Homo sapiens: one gene and its partner. The protein of the gene in region 1 interacts with the protein of each later gene in a pairwise test. Each region holds a gene or a part of one and is shown on either strand. Other genes may lie near its edges.

Region 1 (7,807 bases):
TACATGTAGCAAGGATCTGAGGGTACTGACAGCAGGCATTTTTGTATAGAATAAACATAAGAAAAAGGAAATCTAAGACAGACATGCCAAACCTCAAAGGAAAAGTAGGACAACAAAGGAAAGAAATGGCCTTAATTTGCTTCCATTCATGTTAAAAAGAACCCATTTACTAAACAACTCCTTATCCATCCTTAAAAGTCACAGTATTACTTATTGCTTGTAAGTAAAGAAGAAATTCAAGGATGACAAAATACTAATCCTAAATTCTAGAAAGACTTCAAATATTCGCATTAAACTTTTCATTTTAATATTCTCAGAACTGATTTTCTCCACTTTTAAAAGGACTTGAATTCTAGAAAGACAGATGGTATCTATGGAAGAAAAAGGTACACTTTTCTGACTTCTATATGCTACTGAGTTGAGTAATGAATAATGTTTATATTGAAAGGCTTAATGACCATATCCTCCACTCCCAACCTTCAAAAGAATGAATGAATGAATGAATGAATGAATGAATGAATAAATAAATAAATAAATAAATAAATAAATAAATAAATAAATGGAGGTTCTGCAGCTTAAGACTTATGCTGGGAAAAGTCTTTTTGAAACAAAAAATATCACTGGCCTGTCCCACAGCAAATAAGACAACATAATCTGCCAAATTAATGCTCAGTACTGAGTAAACTTGATGTTTCCAAAAATGCCACAGCCACTTCACCGGAGCATGGTAGGTTCTATGCAACCTCTATCATAGTCCCTGAGACTAATTCATCTTCTCCTTACCTATTTCCTCAACTGAATTAGGCAGTACTTCTCAATTGTGAGCTTTCCTCAAAGGGAAGCTGTGAAGTAAGGAAATTCCCTCATATCTCACAATGATTTACTTCTTTAATGTATGTATACCTAAAGAGAATACGAGTTACTGAAAGACACACACTCAAAGTTCAAAAACTTGCCATGGGGTGAATGAAATTAAGGCAGGTACATTAGCCAAAGTTCTCTGCCTTTACATTATAGTGCACCATCAATCAATTTGTATCTTAATTATTAACTGCCTAAAACCTCAATATGTACAATTAAAAAGGTATAGACTTGGCCAGGCGCCACGGCTCACACCTGTAATCCCAACACTTTGGAAGGCAAAACAGGAGGACAGCTTGAGGCCAGGAGTTCAAGACCAGCCTGGGCAACAAAGCAAGAACTTGTTTCTCCAAAAAAATAAAAATAAGTTAGCCACGGATAGTGGTGTGTAGATAGCTTGAGCCCAGAAGTTTGAGGTTGCAGTAGGCTATGATCATGCCACTGCACTCCAGCCTGGGCAACAGAGCAAGACCTTGTCTCTCAAACAAACAAACAAACAAAAAAGCATAGACTCTATTCCTATATCCCTTCCCAGAAAAAGGAATATATGAGAGGTATATATGCAGAACAGAAAAACCAGCTAAAAAATGCATAATGTTGCTAAATCAATAGGAGCTAGGTGTTTCAGCAATGCCTCTTATCTAATATTCTAAATTTAGCTGAAATGAACAACCAATATAAATCAAACTATGTAACTATTTCTTGTGGTAGTAAATGAAACAGCTCACCTTCTCAATATTTATCTGGTGCTTTCTTAACCTTTCCAGGTCTGTTGGGATTACTATCTTAATGAATTTCTGGATAGCTGGTTCAAGACGGCGTAATTTCACTTTTTCTTCATCTTCAGACATCCTAAAAAAATGTTGTATGACCTCCCTGGTAACAGCTGTCTTCTCCACTCATATAGAAAAACCTAAAAGAAAAATATTTCTTTAAGAATGTTTTCAAATCTGTTTCCACTATTTTTAAAAGCCAACGATTAGTTTTACAATTTATTCTAAATCAATAAATAGAATATTTCTAATGCTGACCTTGAGTGACTTGTTTTTTTCTTTATGAAACCACTGATTTTTAAATCTTTTTCTCTTTACAAAAATTATATTTTAGAATGTTCAGACAATATAAATAAATGAAGAATTAAATAAAGTCAGCAGTCATCTCCTCACCTTTTACAAAGAGTACAAAATGTACTCTTTACATTTTGGCATACGTCTCTCCAGGTCTTTTTCTATGTAAGTAGGTATGTATGTATATAAATACTTTTAAAAAAGCTAGGAGTATACTGTCCAAGTTTTCATTTTCTGATCTATCTTGGACATTGAATAACCTTTTTAAAAAAGGTATCAAATGGCTTAACACTGATGCTTGTATCAAACTTCATGTCTAATGTCATCATAATGTAACTTTGTAATTACACAACTTCAAATATATGATAACATAATATGCAACTTTTCTCATTGATGTGCTTTAAACTGCCTCTTCCATTTTCAATAAAGTGATTAGTATTGCCTACAACTGATTCAAAAAACCAGTGACAGAGCTGGAATAAGAACCCAGATTTTCTGAAATTACATTGAAATACTTTTTCCACTTCACCAGTAGTTTCCTACTAGTGTTCCAGAAAGTCCAAGGGTATGCATTTGGGGCCAGAGTACAAGCGTAGGGGCTAGAGGTGAGTAGGTTCCAGGACTCCACTCCCTACTTCAGTTGTAGAAACTTTACTTACAACTATTTTATGAATTGGAGCTTATCAGAGCTTATATAAATAATGGGCTTCACAGCTTAACCAAGCTTGAAAGCCACCATTGTACACCATGCTTTCATGCCATTTCATTAGCCACAACCTCACCCATGTTTAAAAAATTTTAAGTTGAGTATGTTAATACTGCTGAGTTATGCTGTCTTAGTCCAGGGTCTATAAAGATAGGAATTCACATACAGACTTTGTGGAGCCACTGAATCTTTATGAAAAATTGTGAATGAAGGGGCCGGGTACGGTGGCTCATGTCTGTAATACCAGCACTTTGGGAGGCCAAGGCGGGAGGACCACTTGAGCCCAGGAGTTCATGGCCAGCCTGGGCAACATGCCAAAATCCCATCTCTACAAAAAAAAAAAAAGAAAAAAAAAGTGAATATAGTTTATTTTGGAGAATAGAGTCCATTGTTTCAAGGGATTCTCAGAGATCTATCATCCCCAAAACATTAAATATTTATCCCCTTTCTTTCACAGTTGAAAATCTTGATGTGTTGGTTATATAGACTGCCTCCAATACCTACCCATTAGTAACTTGGTTTTTATGTTTGATACAAGGCTCAAAAGTCAAAAAGGAAAATCTCCAGGTACAAAAACAAAGAGGGTAAAACAGGTGCAACAGTGAATGGAAACTGGGGACATATGGAGAAATTCATTACCAAAAGAGACCATCCACAGACCCAACAAAACAGGAAAATTCATACCTAATGGACGAAAGATAATAAAATAATTTTAAAAAGAAACTAAAGTAAGTATATTTTTAAATATCCAAAAACATTCTATTCCAAAAAGGAACAGAATCTTTTAAAAAAATAGATATTATGAAACAGTAAGAGGCCAGCCTGAATATAAAACAAGTAAAACTTCTAGAAATGAAAATCTCAAAAGATGTGTTAAACAGTAAATTATATAGATAAGAAACAATTATTGATTGGAAGAAATCACTCAGAACACAGAGGAATAAAAAGATGAAAAGTATAAAAAAGAAGATAAAAGACATAAAGGATAAAATCAGAAGCTTAATAACAAGTAGAAGTCCCAGAAAGAAAGAACAAAGAAAACAGTAAGAAGGAATTATTCAAAGAGAATATACTGATAATTAAAATGTAAGACCTCAAACTGAAAAAGCACATCAGCCTCAAGTAGCATACATTAAAAAGAAACCAAATTTGCCTAAATACATGGAAGGGAAATTGCAAAACATTAAAGAACAAGAATCATTAAAAAAATGAGACATAAAAGACTGACAAAGCAATAATATATTGCTTTTAAAAGCAAGATATTAAAAGACAGAAATACCTTCAAAGTGCTGAGAGAGTTGGTATATTCCCAGGTAAATTATCATTTAAAATGAAAGCAAAATAATCATTTTCAGACATACAAGGACTAAGAGAGTTTATTACCAAGCCCCTCATTAAAAGTACTTAAAGGAATATTTCAACAATAAAGAAAATAAACCCAAAGGAGTGGAATAGCAAGGAGCAATGAATAGAATAAACTGTTAACGGATAGAATAAATGGGTGGATGAAAGAACAAAGAAAATAAAACATTTATTTTGAATAGTGTGATGAAGTATAATAAAAATGTTTCCATGTAAATAATTTTCTATAATTACGTAGATGCTTCACAATTTTACAAATTGGCTATTATTGGCTATTTAGGTTGTTTCTAATTTTCCACTATTATAAACTACAGTGTAATTACCCTGCTTACACATAAATCCATACTGCTGCCTATAATTATTTCTTTAAAACAATCAACAAAGACACAACCTGTATAAAGGGAGAAAATATTTGCCAACTAGTCATCCAACAAGGGACTAATATCTAGAATGTATGAGAAACTCAAACAACTCAACAGCAAAGAAACAAATAGTTCCATTAAAAAGTGGGCAAAGAATCTGAATAGACATTTCTCAAAAGAAGACATACAAATGACCAAAAGGTATTTTTTTTAATGCTCAACATCATTAATCATCAGGGAAATGCAAATAAAAACCACAATGAGATACCATCTCACCCCAGTTACAATAGCTATCACCAAACGGATAAAAAATAACAAATGCTGGTGAGGATGTAGCAAAAGAGGCCTCTTTTTTTTTTTTTCTTTTTAGATAGATTTTCGCTCTTGTCACCCAGGCTGGAGTGCAGTGGCACGAGCTCAGCTTACTGCAACCTCTGCCTCCCGGGTTCAAGCAGTTCTCCTGCCTCAGCCTCCTGAGTAGCTGGGATTACAGGCACATGCCACCACGCCCAGCTAATTTTTTGTTTTTAGTAGAGACGGGATTTTGCCATGTTGGCCAAGCTGGTCTCGAACTCCTGACCTCAGGTGATCCACCTGCCTCGGCCTCCCAAAGTGCCGGGATTACAGGCGTGAGCCACGACGCCTGGCGAGAAAGAGGACTCTTATACACTGTTGGTGGGAATGTAAATTAGTACAGCCATTATGAAAAACAGTATGGGCTGGGTACGCTGGCTCATAGCTGTAATTCCAGCACTTTGGAAGGCTGAAGCAGGAGGATCACTTGAGGCCAAGAGTTTGAGGGCAGCCTGGGCAACATAGCAAGATCCTTCTTCTCTGAAAAATTTAAAAATTAGCTGGGTGTGGTGGTGGGTGCCTGTAGTCCCAGTGACACCAAGGTGGGAAGATCCCTTGAGCCCTAAAGTGTGAGCCTGCAAGAAACAGTGTTCTTACTACTACACTACAGCCTAGGCAACACAGTGAGATCCTGTCTCAAAAAAAGAAAGAAAAACTGTACAGAGGCTTCTCAAAAAATTAAAAATAAAACTACCATATGATCCAGCAATCCCACTACTGGGTATTTATCCAAAGGAAAAAAAATCAGTATATCAAAGAGATACCTACAGCCCCATGTTTATTGCAGCAGCATTCACAATAGCCAAGATATGGAATCAACCTAAGTGTCTGTCAATGGATGACTGGATAAAGAAAATGTGGTGTATATACACAATGAAATACCGTTCAGCCATTAAAAAAAAGAATGGGTCAGGCGCGATGGCTCATGCCTATAATCCCAGCACTTTGGGAGGTGGAGGCGGGCCGATCAGGTCAGGAGATCGAGACCATCCTGGCTAACATGGTGAAACCCCGTCTCTACTAAAAAATACAAAAAATTAGCCAGGCGTGGTGGCATGCACCTGTATTCCCAGCTGCTCCGGAGGCTGAGGCAGGAGAATCGCTTGAACCCAGGAGGCGGAGGTTGCGGTGAACCCAGATCTCACCACTGCACTCCAGCTTGGGCAACAGAGCGAGACTCCGTCTAGGGAGAAAAAAAAAAAAAAGAATGAAATCCTGTCATTTACAACAACATGGATGGAACATCTAGCCTGTACTCCCAGCTACTCAGGAAGCCGAGGTAGGAGGATCACTTGAGCCCAGAAATTAGAAGCCAGCCTGGGCAATATAATGAGACCTCCATTTCTAAATAAAAAGGGGGAAAAAAGTTGATCTCCTGGAGGTAGAGAGTAGAGTGATGGGAAGGGGCAGGAGGGGTGAAGAGAAGTTGATTAATGGGTACAAACATACAGTTAGATAGAAGGAATACATTATTCATGTTTAATAACACAGTGAGGTAGCTATAGTTAACAATAATTTATTGCATATTTCAAAATAGCTAGAAGATCTGAAGTGCTCCTAACACAAAGAAATAATAAATGTTTGACATGATATATATCCCAAATACCCTGATTTGATCATTACACATTGTATGTATGTATCAAAACATCACATGTATCCTATAAATATGTAAAATTATTGTGTATTAATTGAAAAAAGTAACATAAAAATAAAAAATAAATATCTAGAAATAGAATTATTAGGTAGACAGATTTTTCAAGGTTTTTAAAACATATATATAGCCATATCCCACAAAAGGTTATGCCTATTATGTTCCTACCAGAAACATAACACAATGTCCATTTATCCATATTCCAAGCAATATACTTAGTATTATCATTCTTAGACATGTCATTGGTGAAAAAAATGATGTCTCATTATTGCTTTACTTTGCATTCCTTAAATTACTAACAGGGTGGATTTATCAGCCATTTGCATTTCTTTTTTTTTTTTCTTTTTTTTTGTTTTGAGACGGAGTCTCACTCTTTTGCCCAGGCTGGAGTGAAGTGGTGCGATCTCAGCTCACTGCAACCTCCGCCCCTTAGGTTCAAGTGACTCTCCTGCCTCAGCCTCCCAAGTAGCTGGGATTACAGGCACGTGCCACCACGCCCAGCTAATTTTTGTATTTTTAGTAGAGACGGGGTTTCACCATGTTGGCCAGGCTGGTCTCGAACTCCCGACCTCAGGTGATCCACCTGCCTCGGCCTCCCAAAGTGCTAGGATTACAAGTGTGAGGCACCATGCCCAGCTGCATTTCTTCTTTTTTTAATTTTTAATTTTTGTGGGTATATATTAGTAGTAGGTATATATTTATGGGATATTTGAGTTATTTTGATACAGGCATACAATGTGTAATAATCACATTAGGGTAAATGAGGTATCCATCACCTCAAGCATTTATTCTTTGTGTTGCAAACAATCCAGTTATACTCTTTTAGTTATTTTTAAATATACAATTGAATTATTATAGTCACCCTGTTCGGCTATCAAGTACTATATTTTATTCATCCTCTATCACTATTTTTTTGTACTCATTGCATTTCTTCTTTCATGAATTGCCTGTTCATGTCATATGCATCTGTTTTTACTACAGGGGATGTCTTTCTCTTATTAACTCATAAAAGGCTATTACATGTTAAATGTATCAATTATTTGTCTAACATTAACATTTCCCAATCTATCACACTGCCTCTTTTCTTTTCTTCTATACCACAAAGAGATTATCTTTATATCTACCATCATTCCTATCAAAATGTTTTTTGAACACACCTGTTGTTCAATAGATGCTGCCTGAACTAAAATATTTCTTCACACGTCCCTTCTATACAATTGCTAATCCTATCACTCTAGTCAAATAGCACAATATGCATAGCCATGATAATGGAGCTTCAATTAGTCTACCTTTAGACTCTTTCCCTCCAAAATGGAATATAAACTATAAAAACATAAACTGTATTATAAACGAATAGCATAACCACACTGAAAGAAGTGAGGAAGAAAAATTATCTAAGCCACTTTAGAAAACAATATTTTAACTGAATACTATAAGCCTAGAG
Region 2 (7,807 bases), on another chromosome or scaffold:
CAATCTGACATTTCATGATGAATTTCAACTATGAAAAACTGTTATGAATACTGCCATGTACACATTTTAAAAGAAAGTTACAAATATTAGAATATTCACCTTTAAACCCTATCAGTATTTCATAGCATGTGTTTTAAAAAACTAAAATTTAACATAAATTAAAAACTATCTTAAAAATTCAGCAACGAATCAAAATGATGTGAATATATTCTTTTTTTTCTTTTGTTATCATCAGAATTTGTATTGATAGAGGAACTCTGACTATGCCCAACGAAGGCAAATACTTTTTTGAAGGCCATAAAATAGTAACATCAGGAAGAAGATGCTTCTGGTTACTATCACATGAATAAATCCAGATCTGTATCATCACTAAAGAAAATACTAAATGGCTAAAGACCAGAATCATTTATAAATAAATGCAATTCATTTCTAACTTGGGCTGTACCCCCAACATCTGTTTCTAAATTAGTTTTCCTGATAACAGATTTTATTTTCCCATAATAATTCATGTCAACTGTCGTAGACAGGTCCCCAGCTGCCTCTTCATCATCATGAGGTGGGGAGGCTGTGTGTTTAGGCTGCAGCTTAACACAGCTTACATAGGAGCCCCAAGACCTGCCTGGAGTGCCGAGCAGGCTCAAGTGTAGAGCAGGAGTAAGTAAGCAGCACACTCCTCACTGCCACTTCTTTACTCCCCATTCCTCTGGAGTAGTTCTGTGAAGCTTCCCCTGCTGAGGGACAGGTAGGTAGGGGTACCAAGGCAGCAGGAAGGAAGGTTTTATTTTCTTCACCTCCCTCCATGGGACACTGCAGTGAGACGTAAAGCAGAAAACAGGGACAGAGAGAAAGATCAGGGGAAGCCTTACAAGGAAAAGAGTCAGCTAATGGCTGCAATGAGAAGGAGGCCATTCCCACAAGTAACAGATAGGAAGAGTTCTCGGAACATTTTTACAAAGAAGGTCCATACAGGTAGGAAATGTCTATGGACATCAAATATTTTAAGTAAAAGTAGTATGAATTCCACGTTCTTACCTGTTTGCATATGCACAAATGTTATCTACTAGTGGAAGATTCTTCAAAGCTGCCTCTACTTTCCCAAGAGAAACATATTCCCCTGCCTGTAGTTTTACAAGGTCCTTTTTACGATCTGCAAAACAAAGAAAGGTGGAGAGGGGAAAACAATGAGTAATAATATTAGTAACATTTAATACATATATAAATACTGGCCATTCTCTAAGTAATTTGCTATCAAATTATTTAAAACTTTGCAAAATTAAGCATTAATGGTTATGCTGAAATTAAAAGCACATATTAAAATTAGGCCCTAATTTTTGTACTGCTAAATACATGCTTTTTTTTTTTTTTTTTTTTTTTTGAGACGGAGTCTCGCTCTGTCGCCCAGGCTGGACTGCGGACTGCAGTGGCGCAATCTCGGCTCACTGCAAGCTCCGCTTCCCGGGTTCACGCCATTCTCCTGCCTCAGCCTCCCGAGTAGCTGGGACTACAGGCGCCCGCCACCGCGCCCGGCTAATTTTTTGTATTTTTAGTAGAGACGGGGTTTCACCTTGTTAGCCAGGATGGTCTCGATCTCCTGACCTCATGATCCACCCGCCTCGGCCTCCCAAAGTGCTGGGATTACAGGCGTGAGCCACCGCGCCCGGCCCATGCTTTTAAAAGAAAAACAGGCCAGGTCCAGTGGCTCATGTCTGTAATCCCAGCACTTCGGGAGGCCGAGGCGGGCACATCACTTGAGGTCAGGAGTTCGAGACCAGCCTGGCCAACATGGTGAAACCCCGACTCTACTAAAAATACGAAAACTAGCTGGGCGTGGTGGTGCACACCTGTAATCCCAGCTACTCAGGAGGCTGAGGCAGGAGAATTGCGTGAACCCAGGAGACAGAGGTTGCAGTGAGCTGAGATGGTGCCACTGCACTCCAGCCTGGGCGACAGAGCAAGACTACATCTCAAAAAAAGAAAGAAAGAAAAACAATTAACTTCTACTTAATGGACTCCATTAGCAGGGCTTCAAGTATGTTCTTCTGAACAGGTTTATTTCTGGTATCCATTAGTACCAGGCAGGTGAAGAAGATATTCAATGCCATCTGCAAGTTCACAACCTATCTGGAGACATGCATAATGCAAAAACGTATTACTTCAATACATTGGTACTACAATGGTAGCGCTAAGTGTTAAGACTCTCCAACCTGGGGATTTGGAAAAAATTCTTGCAAGTGAGGCCTGAGCTGAGGGTTGGATGGTTGGTTGGTTTTGAGATTTTGAGACAGGGTCTCACTCTGTTGCTCATACTGGAGTGCAGTGGCACAATCACGGCCTCCTGGGCTCCTGTGATACTCCCACCTCAGCCTCCCGAGTAGCTGGGATTACAGGCCTGAGTCACTATGCTCAGCTGCTTGAGCCGAGTCCTAAGGGAAAAGTGAGAGGTCAGGTGCAACAACACTGGCAAAAGCCAGAAGAACATCAGCTCTAATTTCAGCTGCATCAAGGAGGAGGAGGAAAACAACTGACGATGAAGGTGAAGAGGGGAACAATGTTAACAGGGGCACCCTGAACTGAGCTTCTAGGAGACATTAAATGGTTGTGGCCAGTAAGATCCATGTTTAGTAATTACATGGTGGCAGTGAGAGGGTGTGTTTAAGGGGGTAAACATGGCAACAGAGAAATTATTGGGAGAGGGTGGCAGAAGGTACAGGCCTGACCAATGATCAAGTAAGAGAGACAAAGAGAGAAGAGTATGATTTTGAGACATAGCTCATAAAATAAACTAGTGGGATATAAAATAGGCATGGGAAGCTGACTGAAGAGAACAGTCTTGAGTCTCCTCCCAGGTTTCTAGTTAGCAAGACAGGGATAGAAATGCCATTAACTTTTTTTTTTTTTTTAGACAGAGTCTTGCTCTGTTGCCCAGGTTGGAGTGCAGTGTCGCGATCTCCGCTTGCTGCAAGCTCTGCCTCCCGGGTTCATGCCATTCTCCTGCCTCGGCCTCCCAAGTAGCTGGGATTACAGGTGCCCGACAAAGACACCACACACGGCTAACTGAAATGCCATTAACTTTTAAAAAAAAAGAACCTAAAAGGAGAAGCAGAATAAGGTATTTTTCAACCCATATGAGTCATAGTACTTGAGCTGCCTGGCTTTCCTCTATTCTCCTGGGCAGGGCAAGGCAAGGGTGCAGTTCAGACTGTGAGAGCTCCATCCACTAATCTCTAGATGTCAGAAACACAGGCAGGAAACAATGACTGAAGGTTATCTAAGAGTAATTTAAAATACCACTGCTGCTGAACCATCTTTGAGAACTCATAACATGTCAGGCCTCATAAATTCCACAGTCCGTAATATTTTATATTCCAGGAGTGATGCAACAACCCAAACTAAGATTACATAAAGATTTATATTATTCAGCGCCTCCTCTAAATATATTGTGCTTCTTGTGTAAACTATTTCAGAAACATTCATTTTCAAAAAAATATTAGATGACTTACCAATAATCTTTAAGCATCCATCGGGTTCAAACTCTCCAATATCCCCAGTACAGAGCCACCTTTGTCCATTTTCATCTTCAAAGAAATCAGCTTTTGTTTTTGCTTCATTTTTGTAGTACCCCATTGTCACACTTTGGCCCCCAATAAGAATTTCACCCCTGGGGTGTGGCTTATCAGTATTAAAGTATCCACCTAATAAAATAATAATTGAGTTAATAGTTGAGTTAAATACAACACATGAAAATTTGAAACTACTAGTTTCTAAACAGTCATCTTATTTTAATCCAATTAGAACTTCCCAAAGGAAAAAAGGCAGACACTATGAATGAACAAAGTTTATCAATTTAACAGTAGGCACAAAATCTCAGTTGCTAAACCATAAGTATTTATGTTTTCAAACTTCTATTCTGAGAAAAAAATTAAACTCTAAAACCCAACATCTTCCATTTGTTGTATAAAATTATAAATACAAGAGACAAATTATTTGAAAGATTCTGCAACATCTTAAATATCATATTGATAAACTGACAGAAGTATTAAGTCATGCAATTAATAGAACAAATCCCTATATAAGAATGAGTTACTGCTGGGCCAGTGGCTCATGTCTGTAATCACAACACTTTGGGAGGCCAAGGAGGGTGGATCGCCTGAGGTCAGGAGTTTGAGGTCAGCCTGGCCAACATGGTGAAACCCCACCTCTACTAAAAATACAAAAAATTAGTCGGGCATGGTGGCGCACACCTGAAATCCCAGCTATTAGGGAGGCTGAGGCAGGAGAATCACTTGAACCCAGGAGGTGGAGGTTGCAGTGAGCCGAAACCATTGACACTGCACTCCAGCCTGGGCAACAAGAGCAAAACTCCGTGTCAAAAAAAAAAAAAAAAAAAAAGTGAGTTACTACATATTAAGATTTATTCTTATAGATAATTTCAAAATGACTCCAAGCCTAAATTTATTAAATATTCCCACTAATTCTGCTAAAGATAGCTAAAAGACATCCAAGCCTTAGAATCTTTCTTTATTTATTTATTTTGGAGATGAGAGTTTCGCTCTGTCACCCAGGCTAGAGTGCAGTGGCGCAATCTTGGCTCACTGCAACCTCCACCTCCCGGGTTCAAGTGATTCTCCTGCCTCAGCCTCCCGAGTAGCTGGAATTACAGGCACGCACCACCACGCCTGGCTAATTTTTGTATTTTTAGTAGAGACGGTTTCACCATGTTGGTCAGGCTGGTCTCGAACTCCTGACCCCATGATCCGCCCGTCTTGGCCTCCCAAAGTGCTGGGATTACAGGAGTGAGCCACTGCGCCCGGCCAGAATCTTTATCTTTACTTAATGTAGAGGAAAGGTGCATCCCAATAAAACACAGATAATTTGTATATTTTAACAGGATCAAATAAATTTTTAAGTGACCATTATTTTAAATGGCATGAGAATAAACAGACTTCTATGGAATTGCAGTGAAAATTTCCTTCTAATAATACAAGGTTGAAGCCCTCAGAAAAAAAAAGAAAAAAATCATTTAAAAATCCACAATTTCATAAAATAAATTTTATAATTTTACTTCTGCAAAATAAAGTTATGATCACTCCTAATTTATTGACATTATTCACTTATTAGTACATTTCTCAAGTTTTTGCCATAATTCTTACTTGCATCTACGTAATAAGTAAAATGAAAACAATAATAGTTCTTCAGAAACATCTTTGAAACAAGAAAAATAAATGCATTCATATAGTTCGAGATAAAACACGTCTATCACAAAGGACAAAAATGAGCACTTATGGGTGTTTACATTCTAAAGCAAGAAAGTGAAGCACTAATTTTCAAGTTTAATACTTTAAAAATTAATGCTCTGTGGTTAAAATAGTTTATTACCTTCCTCCCAGTTTTTTAATTTGATTTCACAGCAAACTAATGGTGCTCCCACTCTGCCAGTATTGTAGTCCCACACTAGGAATTAAATGAAAAAAAGGATATTTGAGAACAGTAGCTAATACACTGCTTCATTTTTCTAAATTACCAAAAATGATTATTTATCCTAAGGCTGAGGTATCCCCAGCTATTCCTTAAAAGCAGAAGTCACATATTGGTGAAGCACAGGCCGTGAGGCCTGTAGAGTCGTATTTTTTGGCCTACATTGAGGTTTTTTTTTTTTTTTTAAATTAGTTATTGTCATTCTTAAAAAATCAGGAAATTTTAGATGTAAGTGTGGAATCGCCAGCAACAATGGGCCCACATTTCAGGTACAGCAGAACTGACGGCCTCTGTTAGAGAGGGCATGCCTGCTCCTGTTCCCTCAGAATCAATCCTTACCCATCACATTGTCTTACATTAGGGCCCACTTGACTCATTTAAATAGGTAGCTGCCTGGTTCTTGAGTTTGAAATCCCTGTCTTAAAGGATGATGAAAACAATGGTTTACGTCTATTCTACTTTCTTATTAGGCCTCACCGATGTGCAGTATAAAACACCTCTCTAATCTTTTCCCATGTAATGTATCACCATTTCAAAGTGAGATCTCTGCAGGCTTCCATCAGCTTATGCTATCACACCCTATTTAAAATTAATACAGCAATAGCTCAAGAGCCAGGCTGAAGAATAAGACTGGTGGCTTTCAAGGATGTGAGGAAAGAACCCTCCACTATTATGAATTACTATTGCATTATGTTTCCTCTTCAAAGACCAAATATCAGAAATGAAAGGCTGATATTTAACATTTTAAAGACTTTTATTTAAAACATAAACTGTTACTGATTAATCATTCAATTTGAATCTTAAAAATAGAAGAAATTAAGGATCCTCAGAAGAAAGAAATCCCCTATGCATGTATTTAAGATTGCTTATTTCCTACAAAACATGACTTAGAACTAGCTTCCAAAAATATACGAAAACAGAGAACATAACTGAAAAACAGAAAAATGAAGTAATACATGAAAATGGTATACAGAGCCACTCAAAATAAATAGGGAAAAATCAGTCATGAGGTTTTGTATCTATCCGTATATGGCAAATACAAAGTAGGAGAAGCACAGCTGTATCCTGTACCGGAAAGCAAAATAACTTTCTCCCATAAAAGGGACGCATGAGGCCCTATGCGATTCATCTCAGAACTGCTGATTAGTTGGTAGATCTCCTCCTCAAACACAACCACATGATAAACTCTGGTAATAATATTCCCTAGACCAGAACTTAGTTCCTTCTCTAACACTTACAGAAATCCTCATAAACATTTCTGAACCTGAGCCTTAATATACTCACCTACACAAATAAACAAAAGCACCTTAAGTTTTCTACATAAAAAGAAATTTAATCACTGATGTGAGAAAATAAATGTACACAAAACAGTCAGTGTTTGTTACTAAAGTTTCTCTTCCAAAATGCTAAGTGGTTTTTAATATTACCTATCAGTTTGATATAAAAACTTCTCCAGATAAATTATTGACTCCAGATGCATCTAATACATTCTAAAAATTGATATCAATGATCATAGTACTTGGAATCCACCATTATTCTGCCTCACAAACACCTTACTACTCTTCTCCTATATATTTGCAGAAAATATCCCATACCCCAAAAAAACGTCTGGCATCACACTCCAGCCTCTGACCATGGAGAACACTACCTTCGGAAATTGTTCCAGCCCCAGCAGATTCAGTGAGCCCGTATCCCTGACCAACAGGACAGCAGAAACAGATGTTCATGAATCGCTGCGTGGTTGCAGAAAGTGGAGCGCCACCACACAACAGGAGACGAATATTTCCCCCTAGCAAGCTTCGAACTTTCCGGAAAACAAAGCTAAAGAAAAAAATTAGAGAACCACAGGATTTTAAAACTGAATGGGATTTTCCAAATCACTTAAACTAATCCCCCAGTTTTGATATGAGAGATTTTGAGATTAAGTTACTTATCCAAGGTCACACAGCCAATTTGGAGAGTCTCTTGAGCCCCAAATGTTAATTTTTTGAAGTTCAACAAGGTAAAGAATTTATTATTTCCTCTTAAGAGCTTTTCAAGTGATATTCGAATTTGAATTGTCAGGTTTAGTTTTGTATAGTGACAGGAAAACCCTTGCTTATGGCCACTTTTATATCATTATTTACATAAAATATTTATCATATATTAATACTGAACAATTCTATCATCTTTATGAAATGTATTAAAATCAAATTAATTTTTGCTTTAATGTACTTTATTAGAAATGTGTATAATTTGTATACCACAATCTGTTTTTGAAGTTTCACTAATTCAAGCTTTGAATTGTTTGTTAAAAATAATCTAGTAAATTATCTGTGAAGCATTTAAAAAA

The links. Proteins that work in one complex are often made in the same cells at the same time.
Region 2: the proteins of STX17 (region 1) and ACSL3 interact in binary tests that used the Homo sapiens proteins (3 or more experiments, as listed by UniProt).

The regions. Positions count from the first base shown.
Region 1 is NC_000009.12:99,909,145-99,916,951, reverse strand, and holds part of STX17 (syntaxin-17), read right to left. Parts: intron 4,797-7,807; exon of another isoform or gene 2,801-4,796; intron 1,775-2,800; 5' UTR 1,713-1,774; coding exon 1,590-1,712; intron 1-1,589. UniProt on the Homo sapiens protein: SNAREs, soluble N-ethylmaleimide-sensitive factor-attachment protein receptors, are essential proteins for fusion of cellular membranes.
Region 2 is NC_000002.12:222,926,506-222,934,312, reverse strand, and holds part of ACSL3 (fatty acid CoA ligase Acsl3), read right to left. Parts: intron 7,297-7,807; coding exon 7,124-7,296; intron 5,452-7,123; coding exon 5,377-5,451; intron 3,693-5,376; coding exon 3,501-3,692; intron 1,148-3,500; coding exon 1,033-1,147; intron 1-1,032. UniProt on the Homo sapiens protein: Acyl-CoA synthetases (ACSL) activates long-chain fatty acids for both synthesis of cellular lipids, and degradation via beta-oxidation.